2 linked regions of the Homo sapiens genome follow. The protein of the gene in region 2 interacts with the protein of the main gene of each other region in a pairwise test. Each region holds a gene or a part of one and is shown on either strand. Other genes may lie near its edges. The genes, in order: PKNOX1 and MPP3.

Region 1 (14,889 bases), on a different chromosome or scaffold from region 2:
TGTGATGTTCCTACGGGATGGAGTCCCCTACAGAGGCATTTCTCAGAGCACAGCCCATTGTTAAGTGACACATGACTGTCCTGTCAGGTTCATTCCAGAATGGCTGGCCCCGTGATATTCCCGCCAGCACCACGCAAGTTCCCGTTTCTGCAGATCCCCAATCCCAGCTTCCTCATTGCGGCCGGCAGACGGGGCGGCACGCCCCTGGGCTCCAGCTCACACTCCCTGGGCGTGGCGAGGCCGTGCAGTCTTCACGTGCTGCTTGGTCATCTGGTCTCCTTTCAATGAACTATTAATATCCGCTGTCATGGTTCTAGAGACTTCTAGTTGGTTACCTGCTGAGTTGCAGGAATCCCCCTAACACTGGCTCCTTGCCGGCTTTATCCATTAAAAAGAAGGAACGAGGAAAGTGCTCCTCTCAGTCACTACCTGTTAATGGTCCTCTGTGTCCTCCAATGCACAGAAAAACTGAATTTTGATCTGGCCAAATCACCCATATTTTGCCTTAGGATTTATGCCTTTGAGGTCTCAAAATAAGGGCTTCTTCCCCAAGGGAACAAAGATAAGCTCCCGTATCATCTTCCAGTGGCTCACGGCCATGCCCAGAACCCATGGCGCCTGCCTCTGCTCTCCCCTCTCCTCTTCACTGCTGTCTCCCAGGCCACGAGTCCCTCCCGGCTGCCCAGCCCCATGTCCTCCTGCCATCTACCCTCCCACAGCAACCCACACTCTCACGGCTTCTGCTGCGGGAAGCGCTCCTTCCTGGGATTCCCTGGCACAGTTCAGATGAGTATTTCTCCACCTTCGCTGGCTGCTCTCCTCTAGCTCCACGGTCTCTATGACCCAGGTCTACACTAACACACAAGACAATGTAAACTGTTAAGGGTTTCACAACTTATTTCTGACATGGATTGCTGTGTTAAGATAATATGAAAGAAAACTCAGTGAATATAAAGTAAAATATTTTAAAGTATAACTGATTTTTCTACAGGCCATTTTCTAAAAATGTCTAAGCAACTAAAGCTGTCATTAAAATGTTTCTTTTCTTTTCTTTTTTTTTTTTTTTGAGACGGAGTCTCGCTCTGTCGCCCAGGCTGGAGTGCAGTGGTGTGAACTTGGCTCACCACAACTTCGGTCTCACGGGTTCGTGGAATTCTCCTGCCTCAGCCTCCCGGGTAGCCGGGACTACAGGCATGCACCACCATGCCCGGCTAATTTTTTATATTTTTAGTAGAGACGGGGTTTCACCATACTGGCCAGGCTGGTCTGGAACTCCTGACCTTGTGATCTACTGGCCTCGGCCTCCCAAAGTGCTGGGATTACAGGTGTGAGCCACTGCGCCCAGCCTAAAATGTTTCTTTTGAAAGATGCTGGAATAAAAGAATTCCTTATTTATTTATTTATTTATTTATTTATTTATTTATTTTGGGGCAGAGCCTTGCTCTGTCGCCCAGACTGCAGTGAAGTGGCGTGGTCTCGGCTCACTACAATCTCCACCTCCTGGGTTCAAGCGATTCTCCTGCCTGAGCTTCCCGAGTAGCTGGGATTTCAGGCACCCACCACCATGCCCGACTAATTTTTTTATTTTTAGTAGAGACCAGGTTTCTCCGTGATGGCCAGGCTGGTCTCAAACTCCTGACCTCAGGTGATCTGCCTGCCTCGGCCTCCCAAAGTGCTGGGACTAAAGGTGTGAGCCACCACGCCCGGTCTAGAATTCCTGATTTATATTAAAACCATTCTTGCTTTTTACAGGGTTGAAGTCCTTAGCTGCTTAGACATTTTTAGAAAATGGCCTGTAGAAAAATCAGTTATATTTTAAAATATTTTACTTTATATTCACTGAGTTTTCTTTCATATTATCTTAACACAGCAATCCATGTCAGAAATAAGTTGTGAAGCCCTTAACAGTTTACATTGTCTTGTGTGTTAGTGTAGACCTGGGTTGTAGAGACTGTGGAGCTAGAGGAGAGCAGCCAGTGAAGGTGGAGAAATACTCATCTGAACTGTGCCAGGGAATCCCAGGAAGGAGCGCTTCCCGCAGCAGAAGCCATGAGAGTGTGGGTTGCTGTGGGAGATAAAGAATGGAAACATCTGTATAAGATAATACCTTCTAAATACGATTTTTATACAGAATACTTACAAATTATCCAAGTAAGCAACACTAACTAGTCCTTTATAGACTACAAAAGCCAGACCTGAGGAGGCCTGGCAGAGAGGAGCCTGCAGGTGCCAGACCCGACCTGGGCTGCATGGTGAAGACGTGGGATTGGGAAAAGCTGGCCCCAGGCCCAGATGCCACCCCGGGCATTCACTGCTTTCAGTCACATGTGCTTAGATGCTATATAGTCACTAGTCTCGCAGATTTTATAAACAATGATAGTTAAACAACTATCCTAGGTCTTAGTGAAGGTAAAAATATCCCACTGTACAAGGGCAAAAATAATTTGTACTAAGAATTTTTTTTTTTTTTGAGACAGAGTCTCGCTCTATGCCCCAGGCTGGAGTGCAGTGGGACAATCTCAGCTCACTGCAACCTCCGCCTCCCGGATTCAAGAGATTCTCCTGCCTCAGCTTCCCGAGTAGCTGGGATTACAGGTGCCTGCCACCATGCCTGGCTAATTTTTGTGTTTGTAGTAGAGATGGGGTTTCACCATGTTGGCCAGACTGATCTCAAACTCCTGACCTCAGGTGATCCGCCCACCCTGGCCTCACAAAGTGCTGGGATTACAGGCGGGAGCCACCGCGCCCGGCCTTGTACTAAGAATTTCTTCTGAGAGTATACATAATAGAATGGCATGAAAGCTAAAAACAGTAGACATTGTTTATGACATTCATATAATTCAAAAACTGTGAAACACTAAATATTTAATCCAAATATTTCTTATTTTCTGGATTTGCTAGACCATTACTCACTTCCTCATCAGTCTTTAGATGGAGAGATAGAATCTTATTAGTCATAAACATCATTGTAAGGCTAGAATAAACCTTATAAGCCAGTTCTTCCTTTTCATAAATGAAGCCCTGGAAGCCTAGAGAGACTGGGGCTGCCTGAGGCCCCACATTAATAAAGTTCATGCCCGTCCTCTCACCTCTGAACTAAGGGAGCTGGAAATACAACACAGTGCCTCAGTTTTCTGTAACCAATGAAAACATTGCTTGAAACAATACAGTCAGCTGTCACTACTAATTACCAACAAGACTCATAATTTTGCATGTGGTTTTTAAAATACTAAGTCTGCTGACTTTAGCCTCTAAGCATGAACAGTTGTTGGGAGTTATAACACTCTGGACAACAAAGATTAAAAACCCTCTGAAATTGTTTTAATGTACCTTTTAAATCTTCAGGAACTTTCTTGTCATGAAAATTTATAATATGAACTATGAAAGGGATTATGTTAGCTTACTGATGAATCATTATCTTCTTGTAACTATCAAAATAATTAGATTTGTGGAAAACTATAATAAAAAACATAAAAGCTACCTGTTTCCATTTTCTGCCTGAACAGCCAATGAATGAACAAAGTAAGGAATTTAAGAAAAGATTCTTGGACATGTAAATGGACCTGACTAGTCCGATGCAGTGTGGTCCTAGTTTCTCAATATGCAGGGGTGACTACAGACCCTACATGTCACCAGAAAACATGAAAACATTCTCAATGTTTTACATAAAATGGAGAAGCAGCTTTTGGTGACATGAGCTTTATAAAATAAAACATCCATAAAGCAAGTTTCTATTTTTAATTTTTTTGCTTTGATAAATCAATTGCTTCACAAAAATCCTTTTTAAAGACAACAATCCAAGAAAACATATTGTTACAGTATTCACATTTCAAAGATTGTCAGTTTCAAAGACCGAATATAACTAGAACGAAAGATTGCTGAGTTCTTTCTGTCTCTAAGTGCCAGGAATGGGCCTTCACAAGGGGCAGAACCCCCTCTGGACACCCTGGAGTTTGTCTCAATGAAAAGTGCCCACTGCTACCTCACACAGGCAGGAGATGGATCACTCTCAGGTCACACAGACACAACTCCCAGAGCCCTTAGCCGTGAGGGTTTCTTTTGCATGCTCGATAAACACTTCCACTCATCTTACTATCTGGAATCAAAGCGCAAAGGCCAAGCTAGTCCCTCGGTGGGAGCGAGCTGGAACCCAGCACAGCCAGCCCTGCCACTCCTGCTCCACAGGTGCAGGGCAGGAATAACAGCAACATGCTCAATTTGGGTCTCAAGACACATTCAAAAGGAGCCTTCATAGGGAAAAACTCAACAAGAATAAAACTGGAACCGAATCTGATCATTTAAAACGAAATCTTAGAGGGGGTCACACTTTTACAGATTCTCTCCACTGTCCAAGGGCTGGAGAACAGGTGTTTTAAGGTGCCAACTGACCTCAAACATGCTGGGCAGTGATTTTGCAAACTGAAACAGCTTGCCATGTAGAAGCTAGTTAAAAGCACCCATTGCAGAGAGGTTAAAGGAAACTCAGGCTATGTCCATAAGCACCCTTTCTCTAAGTGATCTTTATCCTATTCCTCTGAATTTAGTAAGAATTTAGGAAAGTTGAAGAAAGTTTGCAGCTGGAGAGAATGCACACTGTATCATTCAGCATGGGTGTTTAACTCTCAGGCCAGAGCTTCCCAGTGCCACCGAGGTTCAGGCAGTGCTCTCTTTTTATAGATGGGGGTCTCACTGTGTTGCCCAAGATGGAGTGCAGTGGCTATTCACAGGTGCAAGCATAGTGCACTGCAGCCTCAAACTCCTGGCACATGCCATCCTCTGCCTCAGACTCCCGAGTAGCTGGAACTAGAGGCACGCCCTACTGCGCCGGGCAGGGGCAGCACTCTTAAATTCAATCCACTGCTTAGTGAATGTGATTTCTAGTGGGGGAAAGAAACGGTGACCTATACATGAGTCTACATTCTGTGAATGGCTTCCACTAATCTACACTAAAGAGCAAGCAGCCGAAGAGACGGAGGGTGGTGAGGGAAGGAGGAAGGGCTGGCTGGCTTTCATGGGTGCTTATTTTAAGGAGTCCAACAAAGTTGGAACTTAGGTTAAAAATGATCTTATAGACTTGACTTAAAATATGAGAAGACAGTTCACAAATGAGGAACGCAATGGTGGCTTTAAGATGTCATTCTCGGCCGGGCGCGGTGGCTCACACCTGTAATCCCAGCACTTTGGGAGGCTGAGGCAGGCAGATCACCTGAGGTCGGGAGTTCGAGACCAGCCCGACCAACATGGAGAAACCCATCTCTACTAAAAATACAAAATTAGCCGGGTGTGGTGGCGCATGCCTGTAATCCCAGCTACTCAGGAGGCTAAGGAAGGAGAATTGCTTGAACATAAGAGGTGGAGGTTGCAGTGAGCTGAGATTGCACCATTGCCCTCCAGCCTGGGCAACAAGAGCAAAACTCTGTCTCAAAAAAAAAATGTCATTCTCTCCCCAAAAGACTTGATAACCAAGTCTTTCAGTAAAGCTCCTGAAAGATTTTAAAACAAATTTCTGTGTGTTTCCCACTGACTTCTTAACCTCAATTAATATATTCTTTTGGGAAAAATCAATTCCAGAAAAAACTCTTCACTAGCTTAAAATGTCCCTTGGCTTACAACCAATCATTACTGTTGACTCTCAAGAACTGAAGACATTCCCGACCCTGTAAACAAATGAACTTCAGCCATACCATTTCAGATGATATGAAGACATTCTGTATGAAACACCGTGGCCTGTTTTCTGAGAAAAAGCACCACTCCTAAGTAAACAATGAAAACAAATCAAAACCAAAGAAAACAGAACCCAGCCCACTCTCTCGGTTCATCTTGTTACCAGGAAACAGAAGTCCTACAGTTATTCCAAATCTCACGTGGTCAAGTGAGCAGGAGGGCTCTGAAAAGTCGAAAGCAACAACGTACAAGAGAACACTGACACCAGGAGACCAGCCACAAACGCAAACGTAGGAGCCAACCCGTGGGGGCTGCCGAGGTGCCCTCGCCAGACCAGCTCGCTGCTGGGACTCCAGGGATGTCCGCTAGTTAAGTAATAAAGTCTGAATATCTGCTGTTTGCCCTAGCTCTGAGCCAATGGGGTAGAGCACATTTTATATTAGTTTATAATAAACATTCTGTGCATAACATATTTTGAAGTTAAAACTTTTAAAACAATACACAGCTAACATGGTAAAGCGACCATGCAACTGTGGTCAGATTTAAATTAGACTGGAGTATGTACGGTGAGAGCTCCTAACGGGTCACTGGCTACCATTTCACCTCACTTACCTGAAGTCCTGTTTAGCAGATATCTTTCGATATATGTTTAGATCAAGTGTAAAATGCAATCTGAGCATTACATATCAACAAAAATTTGCAGATATCAAAATTTCATTAAATAGCTGTTTCTTTTATAGTAGTAAATGTTCATCACTACCCGGGGAGAGCAAAGAACCATGGAACGGTAGCTAACTTTGGGCAGGTTCATTAAATTTGGTCAATTCAGAACATTCCAAATTGAAATATTAATAGCAAGCATGTATTGTTTCTTCTCTAGAAATTTTATCCTCAATATAGTCATCATCCAATTCATAACGAATTTATAAAAATAGCTTTTTTATCCAATAATTCCAGCAAGGTAAAAATAGGAGTTTCTTTTTCTATATAGCAAATGAAACAGGCTCACTGAACATGAGGGGACTTAGGCTTGCTAAGCTTGCCGTCCATCCACTCACGACGAAACCACACTCAGTCTAGGCGTGTGCCGTTGTCACCGCACACTGGCAGTTTCGGGTGCAGCAGCTTCTTTCAAATCCATGGGCCACACAAATCAACCAGCCCACTGAGATCTGCTGGAACCACAGAACTAAGTGACAACCGCATCACGGTTTAGAAAATGGCAGCGCTATTCCTTAATCTAATTAGGGATTCAAGGTGGGGAGGGAGTGGTGTGTCATTCCTCACAATCTAGCGTTAAACCTTTAAAGAATTTCTTTAAAAATCCACACACACGCACACACGCACACACACACACACACACACACACACACACACTTGAAAGAAGTCGCTGCACCGGCAAAGACGCGCTTTAAGCTTACTATGAAATACAAAAGTGCACTCTTCTATATCTACATATAAAACATATTAGAAATAAAACTGTGTAAAATGTTTGCTGTGCAAACTCCAAAAAGTCAGGTGCGTCTGCTCCTGCCCCTACTGCAGGGAGTCACTGTTCTCCAAGACCAGCCCGCTGATGTGGGCAGGGGCCAGGGCACCCGCATCCTCCTCTGTGCTGTCCACAGACTCGTCCTCGCTCTGCCCTGCCATCATGACCTGCTGCACCGCCAGGGTGGCCCCGTCCGAGGACAGAGACTGAAGGCTGTCCACGTTCATGTTCACGGGCGTGGTGATGGTGACAACAGCTCCTGCGGCAGGATGAAGGTGTGTCATTATTTAAATTAGTACTCACAGAAAAACACTTTATTACTCAATTGGGTGCTGTTTGCTCGTTTGACCTAAAGTTAAAATAAAACACCTATATATGTTTAGGGAATGTTCAACAGGGATTTAAGAAACTGTTTCTGGGCCGGGCGCGGTAGCTCATGCCTGTAATCCCAGCACTTTGGGAGGCTGAGGCAGGCGGATAACGAGGTCAGGAGATCAAGACCATCCTGGTGAACACGGTGAAACCCCGTCTCTACTAAAAATACAAAAAATTAGCCGGGCGTGGTGGCAGGCACCTGTAGCTACTCCGAGCTACTCGGGAGGCTGAGGCAGGAGAATGGCGGGAACCTGGTAGGCAGAGGTTTCAGTGAGCCGAGATTGCGCCATTGCACTCCAGCCTGGGCAACAGAGTGAGACTCTGTCTCAAAAAAAAAAAAAAAAAAAAACAAAGCAAACAAATAAAAAAAAATAAAAACACATGCACACAAAACCATCCAAAATATGAAGACCTCATGCGAACAGAAAGATGCCTATAAAACACATCAGAATGGCTGCCTACGTCAGGGGATGGAGAGCAGAGGCCACAGGGAACAAGCAAAAACAAGAGAAGGGCATGGGGGATGAAGAGAAAGAAGCCACGTGGTGAGAACGGGGTAAGTCCCTCCTCCACACCCGGCGTCGGAGGGAAAAGGAGAGCAAACACAGAAGCAAAGGAGAAGATCCATGGGCATGACTGTGTCTTTGAGACAGAATTAATGATTTCATATCTCTATCACGTGTTTTACATTCTCTACTACTGGTGCTCCTAACTCTTACTGAGAGCTCCCGTGCACGCAGAATGCAGCTTCCTCATGTTTTAGTTGCAGAGAAAGAGAACCACGCACTCTCGTTCACCACATTACCTGAGGCTCACAGCTAACAGGCCTGATCCAGGCCTCTTGTTCATAATCCCCACCCCATGGTCCACCATGTCTGGCCTTGGCCGGCCACCTGTACCTTCCGACATGGTGAGCTCGCTCGGCGGTGGCTGTGCGACTCCTGATGCAATAGAATCAGGCCAAAACCTCTGAACTGGCCGGTTCTGAGCAGTTTTTTTCTTTGTTTTGGGGGTCTCTGAACAACTTGAATCCAACATTGGCTGAAGAATTCGTCTTCTGGCATTGATGAACCTGGAGTCAACAAAGAGAAGCTTCCATGAAAACAGCCTTCGTAAAGACCCTATACAGGATTAACAAATCCTTCTAACAAACACGCTGCTCTACGAAGCACGCTACAAAGAATGACTCAAGTTCTCCACTATAGTAACTACTTAAGAGGACTCAACAGCTCTTCTGAATTCTCTAAATGCCCAGAAACACAGAGCCTGTTGTTTTAAAAATCATGCAAATAAGCACCAACTCGTCCATGGCATTTTTTTTTTTGTCTCAACTCCTTTAGGGCATGTTTGTGAACTAGATACTCATAACGACATAGATGATACTGTTGAATTTGTGAATCTGACACTGTTTTCCCTAAGGAAGAAAAATGTTAAAGAAGCAAGACTTTCTGTAGTGCCATCATGCCTGAGACGATCGGGCAGTCTGCACTCGTCTGGACGTCACCAGATCACCAACGGGGCCGAGCCTCTGGGTGGCAACGTGTCTGAGCCATCAGAGAATGGGACTGCCACCTCCTCTTGTTTCACCACAAAGCACGATCTAAGGCAAGAGCTGCATCTTTTCAAAAACCATTCCCAATGATGAGCTGTTTCTTAGATGACTGGAGGCGTAAGTCCTCCAGTGGTCCTAGACATGTGGCCAGCACAGCACGTAGGCACCAGCAGTGATGAAATCCCCGACAGACGCTGGCGACTCTGTCAGACCAGGCACTCACGCCTGTGATAAGACTCCACAGAGAACGAGAGCAGCAACAATCACAGGCTGGCAGGGCAGGCTGGACATTGTTTCTGTATTTTTGAGATGGAGTCTCGCCCTGTCGCACAGGCTGGAGTGCAGTGGCACGATCTCAGCTCACCGCAACCTCCGCCTCCTGGGTTTAAGCGATTCTGCTGCCTCAGCCTCCTGAGTAGGTGGGACTATAGGCGCCCACCACCTCGCCCAGCTCATTTTTGTATTTTTAGTAAACGGGGTTACACCATGTTGGCCAAGATGGTCTCGATCTCTTCACCTTGTGATCTGCCTGCCTTGGTCTCCGAAAGTGCTGGGATTACAGATGTGAGCCACTGCACCTGGCCCAACAGTCACAGGTTGGCAAGGCAGGCTGGACATTGTTTCATATCAAATGAGTATGATAGCAATCTCAAAATACATTAAGATTAAAGGCTGCTGTCTTCAGTTCCCATTCTTATGCTATGAGCTGTTGCCTTTAAATGTGAGAAAGTGCAAGGAGACTCAAATCCCTAGGCCAGCTTTTCCTCCTGCAGTGACTAGAGGACAAAGATAGCAAACCAGACATGCGTTCTGCTGCACCCACCACCCTATGCCACTGACTGGGCCACTTTGCTACAAAAAGAGCTGAAATGGAAAGAAACGGAAAGAAAAACAACATCTGTCCCGTGAAAGCGCCTATCAAACCAGAACCCGTCCAGATTCATGCATTACCCCAACCTAACGCAAAAGCAGCAATACCAACCATGCTTAAGGCCTCGTTTCTGTCTTCTTTTTTCAGTAACATGAATGATAAAGTAGTTGACCTCTTGCTAGAGTCACACATTGCTCATCTATTAAAAGCCAGACTTCTCTATCTGGATAGCTGAGTAGCCATGTTCACGATATCAGGGAAACAAAAGCATTACTTTTAGACTCAGATTCTACTCTGGTTTGTCACTGTGACAACTTCTTTCTTTTTTTAATGCCCCCCTCTGCAAAACAACAACACTAGAACTGGATCAGCTCTAAGGTTGCTTAATTTTAAAAGTCCAAGATTTAAAAATATCTACAATTATATTAGCACACAGTCTAATAATAATGAAGCAGATCGGATCCCGCCATGCTTCATTTAGAGGAACCTGGTGATCCCTGCAGCACAAGCTCCATGGCCACCCACAACCCCAGCGAGACCTGGGAGGGAAGGCCCCACTGCTACTGTAATGTGTTGGTTGTTTTCTTTTTTTTTGAGACTGAGTCTCACCCTGTCGCCCAGGCTGGAGTGCAATGGTGCGATCTGGGCTCACTGCAACCTCCACCTCCCGAGTTCAAGCCATTCTACTGCCTTAGCCTCCTCAGTAGCTGGGATTACAGGTGTGCACCACCACACGCAGCTAATTTTTCTATTTTTAGTAGAGACAGGATTTCACCATGTTGGTCAGGCTGGTATTGAACTCCTGACCTCGTGATCTGCCCACCTCGGCCTCCCAAAGTGCTGGGATTACAGGTGTGAGCCACCGCGCCTGGCCTGTAATGTGTTTTTAAATCATTCTTATTCAAAGCTGCTACCAGCAGAGGCATGAACTAATGATGGGTGTGTGTATCTCACTCCAAGATGTAATGTTTGTAAATACAAAAGAAAAGAAAGTCACAAAAAGTAAAAGTAGCTACAAATATTAAAGATTTCAGAAATTTGGAATTTTTAAGTTATATTATTAAACTGTTATTATTACTAAAAATTAAAAGTTGATACTAAACCTAGATAAGACAATTCGTTAATGTAACATAGTAGCAAGTCAGGGAACACCAGGAAATCATGAATGCAGAAAAGCAGGAGGGTGCTGAGCAGTGACGGGGCACCAGCACATCCAGAGACGCATCCCTCCCACTTCAGCCCACCCACCACAGGTGTGCCCCAACCAAAGTATGTGGTTTCCACATAGCTCCAGGAAAACAAGCACATGAGCAGAATATAACAACCACTGCAGCAACAACATACTCAGAATCTTTAAATTTTTGTTAATATTCTATTTAAAAGATTTAACAGGAAATAACGCAAATAGTATAGTCTGTTGTGACTACCCACATCTAAAAGAATGGCAAGAATGCAGGATCATGGAAGTACTTATGCAACCCCGAAGCATACCTCCCGCACACACGACTGCACAAAGACAAAGACTTTCTTGCTGGAACTTCAACAAGTTCACATTTTAGCACAGCTAAGATAAAGATAATAATGTTTACAACTGGAAGAATTTGTGCTTTCTTCTTTTATGCATGCCAGTTTTATTAAGCTGAAACTGTTTCCTACATCTGAATAAGTAAATTTAAAAAATGTGACAAGTGACTAATAACCAAAATGGAAGACCACCCCCCACTTCAGTGCCACCTAGGAACACGCACAAGCCCTTACTGAAGAAAATACATCTGGCCAGAGTCTAAGTGTCCACAGCAATGTTTGACAGCAGGACTAGAAGGGGACGTTTTATGAAATGTCCTCCTGGGTGTTTCTTTGCTAGGAATGGCTCCCAGACTCTTCTGTGGAGCAGGACCCCCACAAGAAAGAGTGGCAGAGGGTCCCCTCATGGGGCAGGACCTCTCACTCTTGGCCTCCCACCATCCAGAGGCTCATCCACTAACAACACATCACAGTTTTGTATGAATGTGGGGCTTGGGGACAGTAGCACCCTAGAGAAACAGCTCTAAAGAGGCAGGCAGGATGCAGTCCATAATGAGGTATTGATATGAAAACTTAGGTTGAACCTGGTTTATTCCTAAGTCTCCTGCTCCCATTGCCCATTAAAAGAACTCATATTTTTAGTCGGGTGCAGTGACTCACACCCATGATCCCAATACTTTGAGAAGCTGAGGTGGGAGGATCACTTGAGGCCAGGAGTTCGAGACCAGCCTGGGCAACACAGCAAGACCCCGTCTCAGTTGGGAAAAAAGAAAAAGAGAGACCTCCTATTTTCAGCAAGATTTCACCATGTATTGGTGCCAGGGTTTCCAAGTGCTCTACCGTGCTGACAGCATGATTTCAGGAAGCAGGGCACCTTACCAGTTGTTGACTTGGAGTAGTGTCAAATTTGTCTGAGCAGCAATCTGTTTTTTCTCATCCTCTGTTGGGTAGGGATGCTGAAAATAAAAAAAGAAGGTTACCATGGCCTTCGAGTTTACAAAGGAAATCAAGACGATTTAGGCAAAATGTGAGCATTACATAATCATTAGAAAATAATGGTCACGTCAACAGTGCTTCTAGCCAAAACCTAACTGTAGTCTCACGAACAAAGTGTTTCTCCTCGTCCCAGGAATGTCCTAGTGCTGCAGTGGCTGGTTAGTGCATAGGCCAAGGCAGACCGCCCCCCACGTTTAACGGTTCAGCGGTGACGATAACAGCAGCGACATCATGAGGAGCAGCTATGCAGTCCAGCGGTGAGTCTACACCAGGCTTGATACAATCTATAGATTCTTTATCAACTTTATTGAACTTTAACTTATGAACAATAAACTACATCCATATAAAGAGGATGGGTGGATGCGTTCTGGCCCGGGAGCCTCTGCCACAAGCAATACACAGCACATTTCAATTACCTTGGTCCATTCTATAATAATTCACTGATTCCTCAGAAGCACCTGCTGAGACAGTCACTGTCAGTGTCTTTATTTTACAGAAGAGGAGACTGAGGCATGAAGTGTTTACAAACTGCCCCCATCCCACAGCTGGTGAAACAGGTGGAGTAGGAAATGGCCAGGCAGGCTGGGGGACAAATTTCCATCATGGGTACCACAGGAATCAACTGACACTGGGATAAGCTGATGCCATCGACGGCTTTCCTGGGGTGAGATCTCTGCTGGATTCACCTGTGCTGTCAGTAAGGAACTGAACCCAGGGCTGGTGACAGGAGTGCCTGCTATGGTATTCTTCTTTTATGTATGATTGAAACATTTCACATACAAAAAATCCAACCAGAGGGCCAGGCGCGGTGCCTCACGCCTGTAATCTCAGCACTTTGGGAGGCTGAGGCAGGTGGATAACTTGAGGTCAGGAGTTCGAGACCAGCCTGGCCATCTGGGAAAAAAAAAAAAAAATCTGGCCAGGTGTGGTGGCTCACGCCTGTAATCCCAGTACTTTGGGAGGCCAAGGTGGCCAGATCACGAGGTCAGGAGATCAAGACCATCCTGGCTAACACGGTGAAACCTTATCTCTACTAAAAATACAAAAAATTAGCCGGGCATGGTGGCACACACCTGTAGTCCCAGCTATTCGGGAGGCTGAGGCAGAAGAATTGCTTGAACCCAGGAAGCGGAGGTTGCAGTGAGCCGAGATCGCGCCACTGCACTCCAGCCTGGGAGTGCAGAAAAATAAAAAAAAAAAATCCAATCAGAACTAGATAGCAAAACTCACAGAAGTACCAACCGAAAATGATTTCTAGCTATGGTAAATAATTTCTCCAAGGTTGATGACTGTCTATATGTGGAAACCAACACGACATTTACTCTAAAACCTGAATGCACTAAAGCCCTTGATTTGGGATCAACAAGGACCCAAGAGAATGAACGGTACCAGCAAAGTCAGCAGTGAGAGTTTACTTTGGCTTTGACGTGAAAGGAACACTGAGTGCGGCGTGGAAACACCCCTGCCCATCACATGGGGACGGAGCGGCCTCAGATGTGCCTCAGCAGTGATGGGTTTGTTTCCTCAAACTAACGGCAGTGTGACTCAACTTGACTCCATCAATGAGTGTGTGGCTCTGAGCTCAAGGTCATGGAAACAGAAATACTGTTCTCCCCCTTTAAAAAGCTCATAAAATAGAAACAGGGCAGGAAACACGAGCACACAAGCAGAAAACACCAAACAGCCAGAGATGCTGCCCCAGAGTATGCGGGAAACTACAGGGGGTCGGCGCTGCCAAGAAACGAGGGTGAGGAGGGACTGAGGACGCCCCACAGGAAAAAACGCGGCGTCTTCACTGGACATGATGGGCAGGGTTTATTGTTTGAGAAATTATTAAAACATTAAAGGAAACCTGAAAGGAGAGTACTCACCCAATCCCACCACTTGGTGTTGTTCTATCATTATGTTATACATATACTGATTGGCTGTAATAATCGCAATGTGTGTAAATATACCAACATGCTGCCTTTTGACTTCCTATCCTTCACTAAACCTCCCGACTGCTTAGAGCCCTCATTCCTCATGTTAACTATGCATATGATACTCCATCAAACCAGTACGTCCCCATCTACATGCCGACCTGCTTTCCATTATTATATTGAACGACACTAACATTCTTACACACAAATCTTTCCGTTTTCTTGTGACTGATCTCTTTGAACCAATTTCTCGGAGCAGCCCCGCTGCTCACAGGTAGCACGCCTTTCTCCTGACATGTGTGGCTTGCTACCTTTTATGCCCATGGAAGCGGCTCGGTGGAGACCAAGAGGCCAGGGCAGGCAAGCAGAAGAGGCGCAGCCCAGGCTCCTGCCAGGCCTTCTGCCCAGGAGAGGGCCCTTCTCCTCCCAGGACCACTCAGCAACACTACCCACCAGTTTCAAGCCCTCAGGCCAGTCACTCCCATGGACCCTATCCTCA
Region 2 (15,611 bases):
AGTGGCTCTTGTCTGGCAGCACCTTCCCCATCCCTACCCTCGGGTACCTTAAAGATATTAGTGAAAAATCCTTTCTGGAGGAAAATAGCATCAGCCTAAGCTGATCATTTTTACAAGTAGTTTTTTCAAATACCATCTAATATATAATCAAAGATAACCAAATCTATGAGAAGACTCAATAAGCAAGAATATGCAGAAACAACAAAACAGACCCGTGGGGACTCCATATACTGTAAATAGCAGGATCAGCCTTAACACAACTATTCTTACTGTGCTCAAGGAGGTAAAAGTCAAGCTTGACATTTTTGGCAGGGAACTGGAAAGAACAAAAAGTGACAGCAGATTTGAAAAAAGCACAACATAAGAATTCTAGGACTGGCTGGGAATGGTGGCGCATGCCTGTAGTCCCAGCAACTTGGGAGGCTGAGGCTGGAGGATCGCTTGAACCCGGGAGGCGGAGGTTGTAATGAGCTGAGATCGTGCCATTGCATTCCAGCCTGGGTGACAGAGCAATACTCTGTCTCAAAAAAATAAAACAAAAATAAAAATAAGAGAAATAGGTAACAAAAGCCACAAACAATAGGAAAAGTTATCAGAAATCTCAAAAAACAAAACAAAACAAAAAAACCCCAAAACCCCAGTACAGTAATTTCCCTTCTCATTGAGAAGTAAATGGAGCTGAGCCTGCCCTTTCTCCACCCGCTTCTGACTTGCCCTCTTGCTGCATGCCTGGGCACTAGCCCATTGCTCCTCTTGGAATTATTTCTGGTTCCCTATGGTGTCTGGGCTGAATGCCAAATGCAATGACAATGCACACCTGTAGCCTGAAGCAGATTCTCTCTGTCACCTCTTCAAGGATCGTTGGCATTCTCTTTTTTTCCAGAGCATGCTTGGTAAAGTCTCTTCTCCCTGTCCAGATGGACCCAAAGTCATTCATTCCTCTGGCATTGAGCTCATCTTCCTGTTCCCTGTGCAGCTGCTCTAAACGAGCACCTTGACCGAGCCCTGGCTGGGTGAGGCGACTCCTGCCCTGAGCTTCCGGCCATCTGGGCCAACTCCGCCCTGGCTGCACCTGCCCTGTCCTATGATGCAGCCTCTCCCAGCACTCCTGCTCCAAGCTCTCATCCACCTAAACATCTCTCTCTGCTTCTCTTTTCTTCCATTCTGCTTGCCCAAATATCCTCTGGACTAAAGGACATGTACATATAATATTTTAACAAATATTACCAGATCGTGTCCCAGAAAGTTTGCACCAAATAATATTCCTTCCAAATGTGTAAATGTGTCTTTTCCCCACATCCTTGATAGCACTGGATGTCAACAGACTTAAACATTTTTGTCTTAACAAGGGACATTGCCTCCTATTTTGGCTAAGAATTCTTCGATTATGAGTGAGGTTGTGCATCTTTTGGATTTTTTTTCCTTTTTTTTTTTTTTTAAACAGGAGATCTAGCATCAGTTTTCTGTGTTTATTGGCTATGTATTTTTTGTATTAGACTATTTTCTTTGACCGTTTAAAATTTTTTCATCTTTTCTCATTTATGTAAACTCTTTTAAATTGAGGAATTTAACTTTATCATATTGCATATGATATCATATGTTGCAAATAATATTTTTACCTATAAAAATGTTTACCCTTTTTTAAATCACACATATCCACCTTTTCCTTTATAGATTTGGATTTGGAATTTACTTAGAAATGTTTCCCTCACTGCAGCCGGGCGCGGTGGCTCATGCTTGTAATCCCAGCACTTTGGGAGGCCAAAGCGGGCGGATCACGAGGTCAAGAGATCGAGACCATCCTGGCTAACACGGTGAAATCCCGTCTCTACTAAAAATACAAAAAATTAGCCTGGCGTGGTGGCAGGCACCTGTAGTCCCAGCTACTCGGGAGGCTGAGGCAGGAGAATGGCGTGAACCCGGGAGGCGGAGCTTGCAGTGAGCCGAGATCGCACCACTGCACTCCAGCCTGGGTGACAGAGCGAGACTCCGTCTCAAACAACAACAACAACAACAACAACAACAACAACAACATTAGCTGGGTGTGGTGGCGGGTGCCTGTAATCCTAGCTACTCAGGAGGCTGAGGCAGGAGAATCACTTGAACCCGGGAGGCGGAGCTTGCAGTGAGACGAGATCTCGCCACTGCACTCCCGCCTGGCCGCAGAGCAAGACCCCGTCTCAAAACAAAAGCGAAAGAAAGCTGTATCCCTACCTCACTTCTCACATCAAAATATTTTCTCAGTAAATTTATTTTTATAATCTTGCAGAGGAGGGCAGGTGATCTGCCCGCCTCCACCTACCGAAGTGCTGGGATTACAGGCATGAACCACTGCGCCCAGCCTTTTTTCCTCTCTCTTTTTTTTTCCCATAAAGAGTAGCTATTGTAATTGTCGCCATACCTTATTTTATTTTGAGACAGGGTCTTGCTCTGATGCCCGAGCTGGAGTGCAGTGGCATGATCACGGCTCACTGCAACCTCTATCTGCTGAGCTCAAGCAATCCTCCCACCTCAGCCTCCTGAGTAGCTGGGTCTACTTGCACATGCATCAATTTTTTTTAATTTTTTTATTTTTAGTAGAGACAGGTCTTGCTATGTTGCCCAAGCTGGTCTTGAATTCCTGGGCTCAAGAGATCCTCCCGCCTCAGCCTCCCAAACTGCTGCGATTACAGGTGTGAGCCACTGCACCTGGCCTGTCCCCACATTAAAAAAAAAAAAAAATTCCTCTCCTTCCACTTAAATGTCACCTTTCTCAAATATTAAAAGACAGTATACATGAGGACTATTTCTGTTCTTTCAATTCTGTTCTATTTGTCTAGCTGTTGATTGCCTCTTTAGTACTAAACTTTATTAATTCATTTTTTTTGAGACAGGGTCTTGCTGTGTCACCCAGACTTGAGTGCAGTGGTGTGGTCATGGCTCACTGCAGCCTCGAACTCCTGGGTTCAGGCAATTCTGCTTCAGCCTCCTGAGCATCTGGGACTACAGGTGAGCACCACTACACCCAGATAATTTTTGCATTTTTTGTAGAGATGGGGTTTTGCCATGTTGCCCAGGCTGTTCTTGAACTCCTGGGCTCAAGTGATCTACCTGCTTCGGCCTCCCAGAGTCCTGGGACTATAGCCTCAGTACTAAACTTTAAAAATTGTTTTCATATTTTTAAATCCCACCTCCCTTGGTCCCATAACTCTTTTTTTCCCAGAACTTTCCTATTATTCACCAATGTTTATTTTTCCTGATGAATTGTGGTAGCATTTAATAAATTCTCTGTGAAAAATACTTCTTATATTTTAATTGGAATTGCATTGGGTATAAAGATTATTTCAGAATGAATTAATATAATTGCACTATTGAACTGTTCTTTCCCTAGCCATTTGAGGTACATTTTATCTTTTATGTCCTTCACTAGAATTTTAAAGTTTTTTTCTCCCAAATATCAATAGGTCTTTCATTTTTCCTATTAAGTTTATAAATTGGTATTTAATCTTTCTTGATATCTTAGTTTGGATTTTTTCTTTCATTATACTTAATAATTATTTTTGTCCACAGGAAAGTCATAATGTTTTTTTTGTTTGTTTGTTTGTTTTTAAGACAGAGTCTCGCTCTGTCACCAGGCTGGAGTGCAGTGGTGCGATCTCGGCTCACTGCAACCTCTGACTCCCTGGTTCAAGCTATTCTCCTGCCTCAGCCTCCTGAGTAGCTGGGATTACAGGCACGTGCCACCAAGCCCAGCTAATTTTTGTATTTTTAGTAGAGACGGAGTTTCACTATGTTGGCCAGGATGGTCTCGATCTCCTGACCTTGTGATCTGCCCGCCTCGGCCTCCCAAAGTGCTGGGATTACAGGCGTGAGCCACCGTGCCTGGCCGGAAAGTCATAAATTTTTAATATCAATTGTATACTCTGCCATCTTAAATTTTTTCATCATTTCTTTCTTGTAATTTGTTTCTTTTTATTGGTGAGTAAATATGCCATTGTATGGATATACCACAAGTGAATGAATATTTATCCATTCACTTCTTGATGGACACTTGAATGGGATTAATGCCCTTATAAGAGAACTTGAAGGGAGCACCCTAGTCCCTTTGGCCCCTACTGCCACATGAGGACACAGCGTTCATCCCTTTATGCCCGTCTTTCTTTCTTTCTTTTTTTTTTTTTGAGATGGAGTCTCGCTCTGTCGCCCAGGCTGGAGTGCAGTGGCGCGATCTCAGCTCACTGCAAGCTCTGCCTTCCGGGTTCACGCCATTCTCCTGCCTCAGCCTCCCAAGTAGCTGGGACTACAGGTGCCTGCCACCACGCCTGGCTATTTTTTTGTATTTTTAGTAGAGACGGGGTTTTGCCATGCTGGCCAGGATGGTCTTGATCTCTTGACCTTGTGATCCACCTGCCTCAGCCTCCCAAGGTGCTGGGATTACAGGCGTGAGCCACCGCGCCTGGCCTATGCCTGTCTTTCTCTTCCACCATGTGAGGATACCTATCCAGTGCCATCAGTGAGGAACAGGCCCTCACCAGACACTGAACCAGCTGGCCCCTTGATCTTGGACTTTCCGGCCTCTAGAACTGTAAGCAATAAATTACTATTACTTCTTATAAATTACTGTGGTATTTTGTTATAGCAGCAGGAACTGACTATGACAGGTTTTAATTTGCATTTCCCTGATGACAAATGATGTTGGATGAGTGCTTTCTCATATGCTTATTGGTTATTTGTATATCTTCTTTTGTGAAGTGCATGTTCATATCTTTTGCCTGTTTTTTGATTGGGTGGTTTGTCTTTTTATTGAGTTACAGGAGTTCTTTATTCTGAATACAATCTCTTTGTCAGATATATTTCTTCCTAGTCTCCCAGTCTGTGGCTTGCCTCTTTTCTTTTCCTTTCCTTTTCTTTCTTTTTTCTTTTCTTTTCTTTTTTTTTTTTTGAGACAGGGTCTTACTCTGTCACCCAGCCTGGAGTGCAGTGTCACAATCATGGCTCACTGTAACCTCTGCTTCCCAGGCTCAAGTGATCCTCCTGCCTCAGTCTCCTGAGCAGCTGGGACTACTGGCACAAGCCAACATGCCTGGCTAGTTTTTGTAATTTTAGTAGATACCGACTGGGTTTTGCCGTGTTGCCCAGGCTGGTCTCGAACTCCTGGGCTCAAGCCATTCACCCGCCTTGAACTCTTAAAGTGCTTGAAGGGATTACAGGTGTGGGCCACTGCACCTGGTCCCTGGTCCTATTTTCTTAATAGTGTTTTGTTTTGTTTTGTTTTGTTTTGTTTTGTTTTGTTTTGTTTTGAGACGGAGCCTCACCCTGTGGCCCAGGCTGGAGTGCAGTGGCGCGATCTCCACTCCCTGCAACCTCCGCCACCACACCCGGCTAATTTTTGGTATTTTTAGTAGAGACGGGGTTTAACCATGTTAGCCAGAATGGTCTCCATCTCCTGACCTCGTGATCTGCCCGCCTTGACCTCCCAAAGTGCTAGGATTACAGACGTGAGCCACTGCGCCCGGTCTTTTTTTTTTTTTTTTTTGAGATGGAGTCTCACTCTGTCACCCAGGCTGGAGTGCAGTGGCCTGATCTTGGCTCACTGCAACCTCTGCCTCCCGGGTTCAAGCAATTCTCCTGCCTCAGCCTCCTGAGTAGCTGGAACGGACACAGGTGTGTGCCACCATGCCTGGCTAATTTTTTGTATTTTTAGTAGAGATGGGGTTTCACTGTGTTAGCCAGGATGGTCTCAATATCCTGACCTCAGATGATCCACCCACCTTGGCTTCCCAAAGTGCTGGGATTACAGGCATGAGCCACTGCACCTGGCCAATAGTGTTTTTTGATGAGCAGGAGTTTTAAATTTTGATGAGGTCCATTTATCAATTGTTTTCAGGGTCCATGCTTTTTTTAAAAATTTTTTCTTTTTTTAGAAACGGTGTCTCTTTGTCACCCAAGCTGAAGCGCAGTGGACTGATCATAGTTCACTGCAGCCTTGAACTCTTGGGCTCAAGCAATTTGCCTGCCTCAGCCTCCTGAGTATGTGGGATACAGGCTCATGCCACCATGCCTGGCTTTTTTGTATCCTTTCTAGGAAATCTTTGCATACCCCAAGATTTAAAAGATACCCTCCTGTTTTATTCTAGTAGCTTTATCGATTTGCTTTATGTTTAGGCCAATGATCTCTCTTAAATTGCGTTTTGAATATGGTGTGAGGTAGGGATTGGGTCCCTTCAGGCACATAAATATCTACTTGTTCCAACACCACTTCCTGGTGTTCTTGTCCAAAATCATTTGACCCATATCAGATGGATCAGATGGTTCTCATTATTTTTCCAACAGTAAACATTGCAGCTAAGAATGTGTCTCATGCAGTCTCTCTCCACTCAAAAAGTGTGGTCTGCAGACCAGTGGCGTCACATCACCTGGGAGCTTGTCAGAAATTCAGAATCTGGCACCACTCCAGCATTACACAACCCCCTAGTGAGTCTCAGGCACGTTACATTTTGAGGAGCAATAGTGTAGATATTTCTTGAGGAATGAGGATAATTTTTGAGGAATGAGGGGAAACATCATCATGACATTTGCTGCCTCTCACAGCCTCCCCATGCACTACAGCCTGTGGGGCCTGCCAACCCATTTTCCCTGGTTACTGTGCAGGGCTAGATTTACTTCCAGACTTAACCTCTGGGTCCACCTCTCCTGACATGTGCTGTGCCGTTCTTTGCTGCTGGGATTGAGGGAAGGGGGCCCACTCACTCACCCACTCCTCACCTTTTAATACCCACAACCACCTGCTCACTCACCCAGCAGTTCCTATGCTCTCCCCTATACACATTCTTTCACCAGGAACCTCAGTTTCCTCAATTGCAGAACCAAAATAAGAATGGTCTTGATATCAGGAACTACTGTGAAGGGAAGTGATCTGAGGAGTACCTGGGCATGGAGACAGCACAATATAAGTCAGTTATCGTCATGGCCATTTCAGAGCTCTTTTTCCAGTAAAGCCCCTGGATGCTGCTCGCCTCTGCTATGTAGCCTCACTCCCCTGCAGCCGGGCAGAATGGAGTCCCCCTCCTCTCCAGCCTGACTTCTCCTCCCCTGCTCCGCGTCCCCAGGGCAGCGTGCACCGATAAATCTTTCCCAGCGCGTTGCATTGTTACAGCGAGTTGCCCTCGCATCCGACCGGCCCCCCGCCCCACCTCTGGAGATCTTCAAACCCAGGATCTGTGCCTTGGTCGTCTTTGAAGCCCCGGCCCCTGGCACAGCGCCTGGCACCTGGAGGGCGCTCAATAAATGTTTGCAAAATCGAATTCTCTGTTGAGCAGGTGTCCACCCCTCCACTCGCGGAGGGTGGGTTGCGCGGGCGGAAGGGAAGTCTGGCTGTGTGCCAGGGTGCGGGGGGACACAGGCAGGGGACTCAGGGAGCGGGAGAGCGGGAGCGGGTACGACGCCGGCTAGCGGAGCCCGGCCCGGAGGGTGCGGCGGTGCCAGACGCGGAGGGCGGCCTCCGCTCCTCCCCCGCCTCCTCCCCGCGCCGCGCCTCCTCCCCGCGCCGCGCCTCCTCAGGCTCCGCCACCCCCGCCCGGCGCGGCAGCCGCAGGGAGGGGTCCGGGAAGGCGGAGCCAGCGGCGGCCCAGGCTCTGGGCACTCGCGCGGCTCCCGTTCGCGGAGCACACATCCCGGCGCGACGAGGTAGGAGGCCGCGAGGGGAACGGACGAGGGAGCTGGGCGCCGCGGCGGGAGGGGCGGGAGGCCGGGCCGAGACCCTCCTCCCGTGCTCCCGGACAGCCTCGCGGCCCACCGAGCCCACCGCGGGAGTCTCAACCCCGCCCCTCGGCCCCCGCCTCCCTCTTCCCGCGCCCGCCCCGCCGCGCGCCCCCCGCTCCCTGCTGCTCCGCGTCCTCCGGGACCGCCCTCCGAGGTCCCCCGGGGTCGCTGCTCCTGCGCCCAGTGCGCTCCTTGTTCTCCCACAGGTTCCTTCGGAGAGCGAGCGGGAGTCGGTGCTCGGCCTCCTGCGGGGAGCAGCCCGAGGGTGAGTCCGGCGTGGCGTGGCGGGGCGGGGCGGGGCGGAGGCTGGAGGGCCCGGGGCCGCTCTTACGCCTCTTAGTGGCACCGGGGCTCGGCGCTGCGGGCTGGCTCCATGTTTGCGGAATGAATCAGTCATGACTCTCCTTCTCCTCTTCCTAAGGAGGACTTTTTGAGGTCCACGTGCTGCAGAGCACCTTTGGAGGGCCTCATGAGATAGGGGTCCCCCCTCCTGCATAGTGGAAGCCCGACTCCCATTTCCCCCCCTCCTCTCTGCACTCCAGTCTGGAGGCTCCCTTTGGGTTGGGTCTTGGGGGGTCGGGGACAGGGGGCTTGTAGGCCCAGCCAGGTAGTTGTGGAAGGTGTGTCCCAGCAGGAGACTTGAGCCAGGGCTCTTAGAAGGTTGCAGTGGAGGGGGCGCGCTGCGGAGGACAGCTGACACTGTCAGGCAGGGTCACTTGGCACCTCCAAGGCCAGCCTGGAAGAGCCTGCTTGAATATGGATTTTGACCCACAGCTTACTGAAAGCTTCCACGCCGCTGTTTCTTCATCAATAAAATGGGAACATTCGCAGTCATTTCTCAGGACTTTGTGCAGACAAAAAGTTTATCATAGAAATCACCCCACACAATGCTTGGCACATCGAGGACACTCAGCACATCTTAGCTTTATTTCCTTCCTCTCTGAAAAAAGTAAGCAGAGTTATTTGTTCCCATCCTCTCTGTCCACAGCCTGGTCTCAGAGAACACAGTAGATGTGTAGTCAGTTTGTTCAATAAATATGCTTGATGGAGCTTCAATACCCACCTCCACCCCCTTCTCCCAGAATCTGCAGGGAGAGGTCGGGAGGTGACAACGCCAGCATGCCAGTGCTATCGGAGGACTCTGGTAAGTACCTCCCCCCGGCTGGACCTGCCACAGTCCTGAAGACAAGAGCCTGCCTGGCAGCCTCCAGGCCCTGGCAGTGAGAGCCTGGGGAGAGAATGTCCTCACGGCAGGACTGAAGTGCTGTTTGAGGCCCCACTCGGGCTCCTCGGGGGCAGGGAGCACCCACTGCGTTTGCTATCCTTTGTTTTTCTCACCTCTCCCCAGGTTTGCATGAAACCCTGGCCCTGCTGACCTCCCAGCTCAGACCTGACTCCAACCACAAGGAGGAGATGGGCTTCCTGAGGGATGTTTTCAGTGAAAAAAGCCTCAGTTACTTAATGAAGGTGAAGTCCCACGTCATCCTGCGTGGAAGGGTGTCTAGAGGTCTTTCTAGCTGTCTGTGGCCGTCTGAGGTCATCCTAGTCATCTCCCTGCCCCAGGAAGGCCTTCACTTGCCCACTACACAGGACTTTCTCTTATGGTGCCCTGTCAGTGGCCCAGTCTGCTGCCCCAAATGTCCCCACAGCCGTGGGTGGGATGTGTGGTGTCCAGGGTGCATCTGAAATACTCTGTCTTTGCAGATTCATGAGAAGCTTCGCTATTATGAAAGGCAAAGTCCAACCCCAGTTCTGCACAGCGCTGTGGCCCTCGCTGAGGACGTAAGCCCCAGGTTTCTCCTTACAGTGTCTGCCCCACTCCCCACCCTGTAGGGCTCCTTCATCTTGCCTCGCTTGCTTAGTGTGGGGACACCGGGAATCAGGAGCCCAAAGGTGAAGAGGTGTTTTCTTCCCTTGTCCTCCTCCTTCTCTTCCTCTCTCTGGGTTCCCCGAAAGGTAGGGAGGAACCCGTGAGCCTTGGACTGGGCTGGGAGACACTGTGACATGGAGCTGCCCACTTACTGTGTGTTCTTTAGCAAGTCTGCTTCCTCTGCTGTAAATGAGAGCATTGGATTGGCTCAGCAGTTCCCAAACTGCCCTGAGGACTGGTGATTTGAATAGGTCAATAAGACATTATGTCTGTGCTTTCCTGAAGTCAAGGGACCTACAGTGTGTCCCCGCATACTGGCTCAGGCTTCTCATTTTTTAAAGGAACGCTTCTTAATTTCTTGTGGACCTAGTCGTCTATGTTGCGTGGTTGGGGAAAACCCATTCTGGTTGATTACTAAGATCAGTTCCTGAATAAACTCACCTAACCCCAGGAGATGGCCTGGGGAGGGATGAGTGCAGCTTGTGGGTGCAGAGCCCTGGGCCCTTCTCCACTGTGGAATGTGATTAGGGGCACATTAGATTGCCTGGCTCCCAGGCTCAGCGCTGCCTGTCCCACCAGCTCTGTGATGTTAAGTAGGCCACTCAACCTCTCTGAGCTCCCATTTCCTCATTCATAAAATAGCATCTGAGAGCCAGATAAGCCCAGGTTCAAATCCTAGCTGTGCTGTATATGAGCTCTGTGACTTCGGGCAAAATGTTTAATCTCTTTGAGTCTCAGGATTCTCATCTGTAAAATGGCAAAGTAACAAGACCCTCTGCATCAAGTTGGTTGCGAGGGTTCAGTGAGAAGATCCACATAAAGCAGAAAGCACGTAGGGCTTAAAACGGTGGCTCCTTGGAGGATGGCCCCATAGAGCTGCTCCTGACCCCTGGTGTGATGTTCCCAGGATCATCGTCGTCGGGTGGTTGAGGGTCTGGTGTGCCCCTGGGGGCTGCAGCTGGGTGGGCCCTTCCAAAGAGGAAGGACCCAGCAGATATGGGGCAGGGGCACCTCTAGCCATCAGTGGCGCCTGTCTCATTCTCTGCAGGTGATGGAGGAGTTGCAGGCCGCCTCCGTGCACAGTGATGAGAGGGAGCTGCTCCAGCTGCTGTCCACCCCGCACCTGAGGGTAGTCACACAGAGCCCCTGCCCAGCCATGCCTCTGGGTCTCCTGGGATGGGGGCGGAGGGAGCTCTCCTAATGAGGCTGAGGAGTGGAGACTGAGGGAGCGATCCTCAGCACTAGTGTCTGGGCAGTTGTCTCTCTGGCATGGCGTCTGCCACCCTCCATACCACCGGCCAGCTGCGGCCTGCTGACCCTGTGAGCGGCGGGCCAGCCTTCCTTTTCTCTGGCTTTCCCGGCAGGCTGTGCTCATGGTACATGACACGGTTGCCCAGAAGAATTTTGACCCCGTTCTCCCGCCTCTGCCTGACAATATCGATGAGGATTTTGATGAGGAATCGGTGAAGATCGTCCGCTTGGTGAAGAACAAGGAACCCCTGGTAGGTGCTGCTGCCTGCCCCTCTCTAACCCACTCTTCCCCTGCCTCTCACCCCCACCCAGAACACTGGACAAGATCCTCCCCGAAGTCTTCAGAGTGAGTGACGGCAGCTTTGCCTGCGCTGCTGCTCATCCCTGTGGTGCCTCTGTGTGCAGGGCACCCCTTTCTCTAGGTGGATACAGCCCCTCTCAACTGTGGCCAACACCCTTTGTGTAGTTAATAACCTGCACAATTGTACAGGGTGACCCTGATCATGCTTTAAGCCAGAAATGGACAAACTACAGCCCAAGGGCCAAAACCAGCCCACAGCTTATTTTTTAAAATAAAGCTTTTTTGGAGCACAACCAGGCCCATTCACTTACAGATTGGCTGTGGCTGCCTTTATAGTGCGATGGCAGAGTTGAGTCGTTGTGACAGAGACTGTGTGGCTGGCCTCAAATATTTACATGTGGCCCCTTATAGAAAACGTGTGACAATGCCTGCTCTGAATGTTGAGGAAGCACAGGGCATTCCTCTCCCCAGCAGACAGACTGCTATCACTTTGGTCCTGGTTCAGCATTGATTTACCGAGCAAAGGGACAGCGTTGTTTATGAGATGCTCAGAAGTGGTGGAAGCCCAGAGAATTGAGATTGGCTCCAGAGGATCCCACAGCTGGCATTCTCTATTTCCAACTTTCCCCAAATGACCTCCGACGAGCCTCTTCTGCAAACAGACGAGGATCTCTCCTCTGCCTCTGTTTCCTCACTTGTAAAATGGAGTGGCCATCCATTGATTTAGCAAACACATTGTGAGCCCTCCTATCCAGGCTCTGTATTGGGTGCTGGCGGTTCAGAGCTGAATAAATGATGGATAGCGATGCTGGAAAGTTCTCAGTTCTGGGGGGCTAGAAGTCCTGAGGTTCTTAGCTGATGGCCTCTCTTTCTAGCAATAATTATCTTACGTACTTCAAATAGATGGCACAGATGATGTTAACAATAAGTGTGCAAATGTGTTTGCAGTTACAGCCACTAATAAGTGGTTAACATATGTTGAGTGCTTACTGTGTACTAAGTGCCTTGAGTGGAATCCTTGCAACAACACTGTGAGTTAAATGCTGTCCCACATCTCACAGGAAACAGGCTTGGAGAGGATAAGAGATTTCCTTGTTAAGTCCACATGCTTTTTGTAAACGGCAGAACTGTGTTCACACCCAAGGCTGTCCAGCCCTAGAGCTTAGCTCTTAAGCTTTCTGCCGTCCTGCTGCAGTCCGGCCTGTGTGGTGCAGGAAATCGAGGGCTCGTTAGTGCCTTTCTCATCCTAAGTGTCATCTCTGCTGTGCTTCATGGGCCAAGTCCTGGTCCCGAAGCCCTGGCTGGGGTGCATAATTGGTTTCCCTCAGCAGCAGCAGAAGGCCCGGTAACCCTGTGATTGGGTAGAGGCAGGGTGAGAATTAGCTGGCACGTGTCATCCTCATTATTAAATGTCTTTGCAAGTGGTAGGAACTGTGATATGAGAGAGATGTGATGGAGAACTTACTGGATTTGGCATCACAAAAAGCTTTCCCCTTTACCAGCTGGGTGACCTTGAGGATATTTAACTTCTCTGAGCCCCAGTCCCTCATCTAAAATGTTGCAGCATTATTGTGCCTTGTAAACTGTACAGTGCAGGGCTATATTAATGGGGGATGTTGGTTTTGTTTTGTCTTCAGCATTGGGAAGGTCCCCACTGATCTCTCTGGACTGTCAGAGGGAGGGACTGGGGAGGCTGTGTTGGGTCCAGAGAGTAGGGGTCTGAGGTTTGGAGCTGCTGCTTAAGAACCTGTCTCTTCTGTCTCGGGTTCAGGGTGCCACCATCCGGCGGGACGAGCACTCAGGGGCTGTTGTGGTGGCCAGGATCATGCGAGGAGGCGCAGCAGACAGGAGCGGTGAGTGGCGGCAGTGCAAAGCTGGCCCAGCCCCGATCATGGCCATTGTTCCAGAGCCCTCCACCTTTGCTAATAGGTCCCCTTACCTCCCTCCTATCAGGTCACCTGTTTGGGATTTGCTTTGCTTTCTGGGGTTGTGGCTGGAATTCTCATCTCCTTCCCAAGTCAGTAGAAATTTTAATAGAAAATATAGGCCAGCTGGGCATGGTGGTGCACACCTGTAATCCCAGCACTTTAAGAGGCCGAGGCAGGCGGATCACTTGAAGCCAGGAGTTCCAGACCAGCCTAGCCAACATGGCGAAACCCCATTTCTACTAAACACACAAACCTGGGAGGCGGAGGTTGCAGTGAGCCAAGATCATGCTGCTGCACTCCAGTCTGGGCAACAGAGTGAGACTCTGTCTCAAAAAAAAAAAAAAAAGAAAAAAAAAAAAAAGCCAGGCACAGTGGCTCACGCCTGTAATCCCAGCATTTTGGGAGGCCGAGGTGGGCGGATCACCTGAGGTCGGGAGTTCGAGACCAGCCTGACCCACACAGAGAAACCCCATCTCTACTAAAAATACAAAATTAGCCAGGCTTGGTGGCACATGCCTATAATCACAGCTACTTGGGAAGGCTGAGGCAAGAGAATCGCTTGAATCTGGGAGGTGGAGGTTGCAGTGAGCCGAGATCGCGCCATTGCGCTCCCGCCTGGGCAACAAGAGTGAAATTCCGTCTCAAAAAAAAGAAAAAAAGAAAAAGAAAATATAGGCCATGCACGGGTGGCCCACACCTGTAGTCCTAGCTGTTCGGGAGGCCCAGGCAGGAAGATTGTTTGAGCCCAGGAGTTTGAGGTTGCAGTGAGCCGTGATTACACCACTACACTCTAGAGTGGGCGACGCAGTGAGACCGTCTCAAAAAAAAAAGAAAAAAAAAAAAAATATATATATATATAAATAGTCATGGAGTACTTTGGGGTGATTGAGAAAAAGCTCATGCGTTGGTTTAGTCCAAGGACTGTGACAGTTAAGAATATAGCATGGGCTTGCGGGATTACTAACTGTGGGACAGGGTTGACACCCTTCCCCACCATCCCAGGTCTTGTCAAGCTACTATTACAAAGAGAGTGTTTGTGCCCCAGATTCGTTTGGGTAGAAAGGTTGAGAATCACCGGTGTGTGGAAGAGCTACTAAGCTGGGAGACAAACCTCCTGGTATAGGGCGATGTTACCCCCAAAGTCTGGGGGGTCATCGTTGCAGAGAATCCTAGACCAGCACTTTGCAAACATTAACGAGTCCACGAATTCCCTGAGCATCTTGTTAAAATGCAGACTGATTCAGCAGGTCTGAGCTAGGCCGAAGATTCTGCACTTTTAACCTGCCTCCAGGTGATGCTGATGCAGCCGGGCCAGTGCCCACTTTGAGTAGCATATAGGGCCCTAATATGCAGAGACATTAGTCATTCAGGCAGAGGCTCATAGTGTGTTTACACTCTTAATGATGTCTTCATTGGTGCCTTTGTCTTTCCTTGTTAAGACTTAAGAATGCCATTCTAAGAGTTAATGATAATTTTAAAGAAGCAGAGATTATAGCAAAAAGAACACAGGCTTTCTACATCATAATAACTGTGTTTGAATACTGGCTTCATTATTTCTCAGCAATGTGGCCTTAGGCAAGCTGCTTAATCTTCCTGGGTCTCAGGTGCCAACTTGTAAATTGGAGATTTTACTGGGTGATTTGAGCCCTGCATGCCGAGTGAGGTGCCCAGCACTTAGCAGGGCTTAGTTCGCCCCAGTCCCACCCATCAACTTTAAACCTCGAGTTGGCCCTGCAGTGGGCTTCTCAGGCCGGCCCCTGTGGTGCTTGGAGCTCTGAGCGAGGGGTGCTCAGGTCCTCCTCCTGTGCTGATGGTCAGTCCCTGTGTCTCCTAGGCCTGGTCCACGTTGGAGATGAGCTCCGAGAAGTGAACGGGATCGCAGTCCTGCACAAGCGGCCCGACGAGATCAGCCAGATTCTGGTCCGTGCTACAAGCCTGCTAGGGATGTGCTGGGTCTTCAGACACCCAGAGCAAGGCACTTCCTGGAGCCAGGACAGATTCTGGCTTAGCCTTGCTGTTGTCCTGAGGAGGTGGCAGGCAAAGTGGCCTTATGGTGTGCCCCTAACAGTGTGCCCGGGGTATGGGGTGGCAGCAGGAGGAGGGGAACTTCCCTTCCATCTGCCTCTCTTAGACCTTCTCCTCAGCACAGCCTTCCTTCCTTCCCCTGGTTCCCTTTCACAAGGCCCCTCCTGGGTCCTGGGTCCTGGGTGTGAATCCTGGCTCTGCCTCCTTCCAGCTGTGCAACCTTGGACAAGCCATCAGATCATCTGAGTTTCCATTTCCTTTCCTTTAACGTTGGGATAGAGTTTCTTTCTCAACCAATGTGTGGTTATCATTGGCATGCTAACATCTGGAAAAGGGTAAAGCCCTTCAGAAGTGTAAGGGGATTTTAAGGTATAAAATGCTTGGCTGAAAACCTCCATGGTCCATTCTGGGGAGTTGAAGTCAAAACTGAAATTGTGAAAAGCCCCAATCATAGCTTGGTCCCCTTTATCCTCAGGATTCCTCCCCTGACCTGACA

Evidence for each region.
Region 1: the proteins of MPP3 (region 2) and PKNOX1 interact in binary tests that used the Homo sapiens proteins (3 or more experiments, as listed by UniProt).

What each region holds. Positions count from the first base shown.
Region 1 is NC_000021.9:43,022,413-43,037,301, reverse strand, and holds the end of PKNOX1 (homeobox protein PKNOX1), read right to left. Parts: intron 12,432-14,889; coding exon 12,355-12,431; intron 8,601-12,354; coding exon 8,428-8,600; intron 7,413-8,427; coding exon 7,201-7,412; 3' UTR 3,371-7,200; downstream 1-3,370. UniProt on the Homo sapiens protein: Activates transcription in the presence of PBX1A and HOXA1.
Region 2 is NC_000017.11:43,825,155-43,840,765, reverse strand, and holds the start of MPP3 (MAGUK p55 subfamily member 3), read left to right. Parts: upstream 1-7,619; 5' UTR 7,620-7,665; intron 7,666-7,946; 5' UTR 7,947-8,005; intron 8,006-8,514; exon of another isoform or gene 8,515-8,689; intron 8,690-8,728; exon of another isoform or gene 8,729-8,784; coding exon of another isoform or gene 8,785-8,859; coding exon 8,860-8,884; intron 8,885-9,088; coding exon 9,089-9,207; intron 9,208-9,444; coding exon 9,445-9,522; intron 9,523-10,634; coding exon of another isoform or gene 10,635-10,658; coding exon 10,659-10,739; intron 10,740-10,974; coding exon 10,975-11,112; intron 11,113-12,933; coding exon 12,934-13,015; intron 13,016-14,924; coding exon 14,925-15,010; coding exon of another isoform or gene 15,011-15,143; intron 15,144-15,611. UniProt on the Homo sapiens protein: Participates in cell spreading through the phosphoinositide-3-kinase (PI3K) pathway by connecting CADM1 to DLG1 and the regulatory subunit of phosphoinositide-3-kinase (PI3K). Stabilizes HTR2C at the plasma membrane and prevents its desensitization.